2 separate regions of the Homo sapiens genome follow, and region 2 is linked to region 1. The links come from fine-mapping of genetic effects on gene expression. Tissue or cell type: whole blood. Region 1 holds a variant in brackets; the other region holds the start of a gene. All regions are shown on one strand. Distances are between the middles of the regions.

Region 1 (2,835 bases):
TGTGTCCAGGCTGGCCTGGGGGTCGTGCTACCTGAGGCGGCAGAGCTGAGCCAAGGTCCAGGACCAGTTTCAAGAGGGTGGGCCAGGCTCCTCTGAGCCCATTTCTAGGGCAGCCCCTGCACCCTTGCCGTGCTGGACTCGGTGGGGACGTCTGGGTGGCTCTCTGCAGGTGACACACGTGCTGTGGCTGGCCAGGTGGGTGGCAGGTATGTGGGGGTGGAGCTCTCAGCTCTATCACTGCCAGGCCCTGGGGTGATGCTGGGCAGAGCTGTCCCTGCGAGGGCCCTCGAATCCAGGAGTGGGCGAGTCCGGGATGGTTCCAGAGCTTCCAAACCCACATCCAGCCCAGGATGTGAGAAGCAGCCCAGAAAGGCCTGAGCCAGGCTGTCCTGGTGGGGCAGGTACTGTGGGCCCCGCCTGCCCAGCTGACAGGAGGCAGCCAGCGGATGCCCGGGTGGGAGGGGCTCGAGCTCTCAGGGTGTCCCCCAGCTAGGACTCATCCAGGGCAGGGACCCCTCATGGGAGGATGGGGAGTCACATGGTGCCCAGGACCCCCGACTGAGGACTGCAGCAGACCCGTCACAGCAAACGGAGTGGAGGCCTGTATTTCACACCTGCTCACTCACTCCATGGCTTAGAAAAGAACACGTCCACCGCGGAGGCCGCAATGCCCACCTAGAGCAGGTCGTAGAAGTAGTCCAGGCCCTGGCCCAGCTCCCAGATAGAGACCCCAACGCCCAGCTCCCGGGCCAGCTCCAGCCGCACCTGCAGGGACTGGGCACAGATGGAGGTGTGAGCACCTGCTGGGGCCTGTCCCCCCAACACCCAGGGATGTCCTCCAGGCCGAGGGGCAGCACCGCCTGGACCCCAGGCCAGTGCCTGCTGTGCTGTCGCATGGCCCACCCCTCCCCCGGTCCCACGGCTGGCAGCACACGCACCTTCAGGGTTGGGTAGAAGACGACGTGCCTCCCACTGCGGCTCCTGCAAGACAAAGGGACTGTCAGCCCATCCGCTCTGCTGGTTCCAGGCCTCCTCCCCTCACAGCCAAGGTCCACGGCCTGTACTCCTCCCACCCACCAGGTGGCCACCTGCTGTCCAGCTGTGCTCCAGGGCCGGGAGCAGCAAGTGAGCTCGTGACCCTGAGACCCCCTGGGCCCTGCTGCTCCCTCATCTCCACCCCCAGGGCCCCTCCCTGCACACAAGGCCAAGGTGGGCCACGCACTTCAAAACACTCACTTCTTGTACTCGAAGAAGTGCTCTGAGGCCTGGCTGTCCCACACCATC[C/T]GGGGCCTGTGGTCCTTCAGTGTCTGGATGTACCTGGGGAGACCAGGATATGGATTTGGGAGCCCACCCAGCTCCCCCACAGCCCCACCCTGTACCCCCAAAGGCTGTGGCTCTCAGCAGGGGCAGGGCCACTCGGGGCAGCCACTGTCCCCAGTGGTCTGGGGGACAACACCTGGTGGGGTGGCCAGAGCCCCAGGCCGTGTGAACCCTGTATTAGAGGAAACCTCAGGAAAAACATCTTCCAGGAGCTTCCTCGGAAGAAGCCACCCCACCAAGTCCTTTCAGTGGCCTGGAGAGTGACACGGGGCCTGAAACTGCCTGAGCCTGAGGGTGACCCTCAGGCCGCGCAGCGGCTGCTGGACAGGGCTCCTCACTCTGTCCAGACCCCAGGTGAGAGGCTAACCAGACAGGCCTCAGGCTGCCCTGGCCCCGCTGCTGGCCCTGGACTGATGGGCAGTGCCTCGTACTGGGTGGGCAGTGCCTTGTACTGGGGATGGCTGCCCGGGGCAGTGGTTTCTGCACCTTTTTTTTTTTTTTTTTTTGAGACGGAGTCTCACTCTGTCGCCCAGGCTGGTGTACAGTCGTGCGATCTTGGTTCACTGCAACCTCTGCCTCCCAGATTCAGGTGATTCTTCTGCCTCAGCCTCCTGAGTAGCTGGGACTACAAGCACACATCACCATGCCCGACTAATTTTTGTTATTTTTTAGTAGAGATGCGGTTTCACCGTATTGGCCAAGCTGGTCTCGAACTCCTGACCTCGTGATCTGTCCGCCTTGGCCTCCCAAAGTGCTGGAATTACAGGCGTGAGCCACCGCGCCTGGCCTCTGCACCCTTTCAAAGACTGAGTCTGCCTCAGTCTTGAACAATGACCACCCCATGCCCAGGACAGCAGCAGGCCCCTCCTGAGCACCAAGAGTCAGTGGTTTGAGAACCACCCCCTCCTTCACACAGAGGACAGGCTCATTCCCAAGGTGCTGGGGACACGACTGCGGCTTCCAGGTCACGGGGCCCTGAGTGTGTGCACATCTCACACTGCACATTTGGGACCAGGGCAGGTGGTTCCAGAAGCTTCTGGTCTCCACAGACAGGAGTCTGTGCAGGTGGAGGCAGCTGACAATGGAACATGACCAGTGCCTGCTGCGTGAGGACAGTGCCCCCCACGTGCCTGGGGCTGCAGCCTCAGGGAGGAGGCCTGGCGTGGGGCCTACAGCCCGGGTGCCATGTGGGAGGGGAGGACAGGCAGTAGGCAACTGCAGGGGCGCAGGGACCTGGGCCGTGTGGCATGGACATCCGCAGGATCCTAAGGGGTCACAGATGGACAGTGCAGGGTTTATCCAAGTGAGAAATGGCCACAGGACCGCACCTCGAGCCACCTTTCTGCTCCTGCCCAGGAGTAGTGGGATGTTTGAGGCTCCCAAACGGGAAAGGCTGCTGTTGTCCTGAGCAGGGCAGAGTCCCCTTGACACTGGGAGCCTCTTCCAGACTAGGGCACATGTCACTTCAGAGCTGTGAATGGGAGCAGCTGCCACCCCCCCAGCAGTGCTCGACAA
Region 2 (2,642 bases), 40 kb after region 1:
CTGCTCCCACTTTCCTGCGCTCCCAGTCCGTAGGTCCAGGACCTCCTCGGTGGTGTTGATGGAAATGATGGGAGTCACAGCAGGGGCTTTCCAATGCTTTTCATGGAGACCAGCAGTAAGAAATGCACTTTACGTCACAGCCCAGCACACGTGTATGTCATGTGTGCACATGTGTTGTGCATGTGTGTACATGTGTAGAGCGACAGCAGCCAATCAGAGCTAACTCTATTCTGCGATGGACGCACTGACAACTCCTGTTCTGTTGTGTTTTGAAGAACTAACTGGTGCATGGCGGCTCTGGCCTGTGATCCTAGCACTTTGGGAGGCCAGGAGTTTTTGACTGGTTTTGGCAACACAGCCAGACCTGGTCTCTACAAAAAATATTTTTCTGCCGGGCAGATCACCCCATCAGGAGTTCAAGACCAGCCTGGCCAACGTGATGAAACCCAGTCTCTAAAAAAGATACAAAAATTAGCTGGGTGCAGTGGTGTGCGCCTGTACTCCCAGCAACTCGGGAGACTGAGGCAGGAAAATCCCTTAAGCCCAGAAGCGGAGGTTGCAGTGAACCGAGATCGCGCCACTGCACTCCAGCCTGGGTGACAGCGTGAGACTCTGTCTCAAAAAAAAAAAAAAATTCTTAGCTGAGTGCGCTGGCGCACACCTGTAGTCCCAAGTAGCTAGGAGGCTAAGAGATTACTAGAGCCCAGGAAGTCGAGGCGGACGGGCGGGCGGGTCACCCTCCAGTTTGGACAGTCAGCAATGGAAGCTTCAAGGGTTGGGGCTGAACCAAGGGTGGGTGGGATCGCGTCTGATGCGCCCACCCTTCACGGGGACCGCGTGCCCCTCACTGGGAGGGCAGCCCGCCTGGAGCCCTACTGCCTCTGCTCCCTCTGGGGGTCCTGGGGACCCGATGGCCACCACTCTGCCACACGAGCCGCGCGCTCACACACTCCTCACCCGCCGGCCACATCCCTTGTCTGCGCACTCAGGCCCCTTCCACCCAGCGCGCCTAGCTCTCAGGCTTGCTCGCCCCAGCGCACGCGCTCCACCTCCCACTCGCGGTCCCCCCGACACGCGCCCCCGTCCACACTCGCCCTCCACCCCCGCTCTCGCTCACCCTCGCTCTCATAGCAACCCTCTCTCACCCTCGTCCTCACACCCTCTCACACGCCCCCTCACACACTTGCTCTCTCTCACGCACCCGCCCGGCGTCGCCCGCGACCCCACGCCCGTCCTCCCGGGGCCGAGCCTCGCTGCCCGGCGCGCCCACTTTGCGGGAGGGAAACTGAGGCCGTGCAAGGAGGAGGAGCAGGGGCCGGCCGCCGCGGGGCTCACCTGCATGTCAGGGAGGCCGGACGGCCACAAACGCACGGCCGGAAAACGCTCCAGCGCGCCGGAAGTCCCGCCCCAGGCGCCCGCGCGCCGCCGCCGCGCACGGCACGCTGGGATGGAGAGGGGCTGGGCCAGGACAGGGGACTGGGCAGGGCTGCCCGAAAGTCGGGGCCGGGGCCGGGGCCGGGGCCGGGGCGGGGCCGCGCCGGGGGCGGACCCCGGGCCCGGCGCGTTCACCTTGAGCGCCCCTGGTGCTCGCGCTGGAGCTGGTTATCAGGTTCCCGGCCCAGGGGTAGCCGGGTTCCCAGCGCCACGGCTCTTAGGCAGGCCTGGCGCCCTTGGCGTGGGGCCGCGCGGGGCCTTGGGCTCCAGGGCCTCTGCCCGGCTCGGCGGTGCCGGGAGAACCGCGCGGTGGGCTCCGCCCCGGCACGCTCCCCCGGGGACCCGGAGTCACCACTCCTGGCGTCCCCCCGACCCCCGCCTGAGTGGACCATCTCCATCCCCAGGCCGATGGCGCCCACTGCGCTGTCTCCAGCGGGGACTGCCCGAAACGCGCGCTCTCTCGGTCCGCACCCCCGCCTTGCACATTGCACGAGCCGGAGCCCCAGGAGGCAAACCAAGTTCCCAACTCAGCCCCTCGCGCTTGGATGAACGAGCGCGTGGCCAGCACTTTTGAGTCACCGCGCATTCTACGCGGCACAGGCTGTCCGACCCCCACCCCCAGCCCTAGCCGTTCCCAGCGCAGTTTCCTACAGAAAACCGCACGGCCGGGCCCCACCCTGCCCCGCTCAGCCGTTCCCGGGGCGCGCGTGGGCTCCAAGACACCCTGCACAGCTGCTTCTCCATTTCTGCTGCTTGGGAGCTTTCTCCTTAAACTAAGCTTTGTCTTTCTTTCTAGTCACGTTTCCTTCTTTCCCTTCCCGGTATTTTCTGCCAGCTGACGCCCACGCCTTTCCTAGAAGGGGCTGGGGGCTGCATGCGGTGCGAGGCACGTCCCCCACCAGCTGTGGGCTCTTACTCAGCTTAGCACTCGCTCTCAGCAAACGGCCTGGATGGTGGCCTGAAGCCTGACCTTTGGGGGTGAAGACCTCAAGTCGGCAGAGCTCTGGAGAGGGTCCCAGTAAGCTATGGCAGGTGTCCTCAGGGACATATGCGCAGTCCTCCCAATGCTAAGGAGGCCATGGCAACATCCAACTTCTCTTAGGAAAGGCACTTAGCCATTTTAGGATCTCATTGAGGTCAGAGGTCTTTGGCGCTAAAGAATTGCAGAATCGATCGGGCAGCCGCCGCCTTTAATCCTAGCACTTTGG

The links. PIP is the estimated chance that this variant, and not a neighbour inherited with it, causes the effect.
Region 2: it holds the start of CHID1, and the variant in region 1 is fine-mapped to the expression of CHID1 in whole blood (INTERVAL, PIP above 0.99).

Annotation. Positions count from the first base shown.
Region 1 is chr11:869,183-872,017 of GRCh38, forward strand. CHID1 (chitinase domain containing 1) reads right to left here. Exons shown (of 13, transcript NM_023947.4): 11 at 1,237-1,317; 12 at 939-981; 13 at 1-774. The coding sequence ends at 676. Among named protein-coding and RNA genes, the nearest start is that of TSPAN4, 28 kb to the left of the region's middle. RefSeq lists an enhancer at 1,425-2,187. The variant C/T (reference allele first, on the strand shown) is at 1,285.
Region 2 is chr11:909,440-912,081 of GRCh38, forward strand. CHID1 (chitinase domain containing 1) reads right to left here and starts at 1,371. Exons shown (of 13, transcript NM_023947.4): 1 at 1,336-1,371. RefSeq lists a silencer at 1,054-1,893.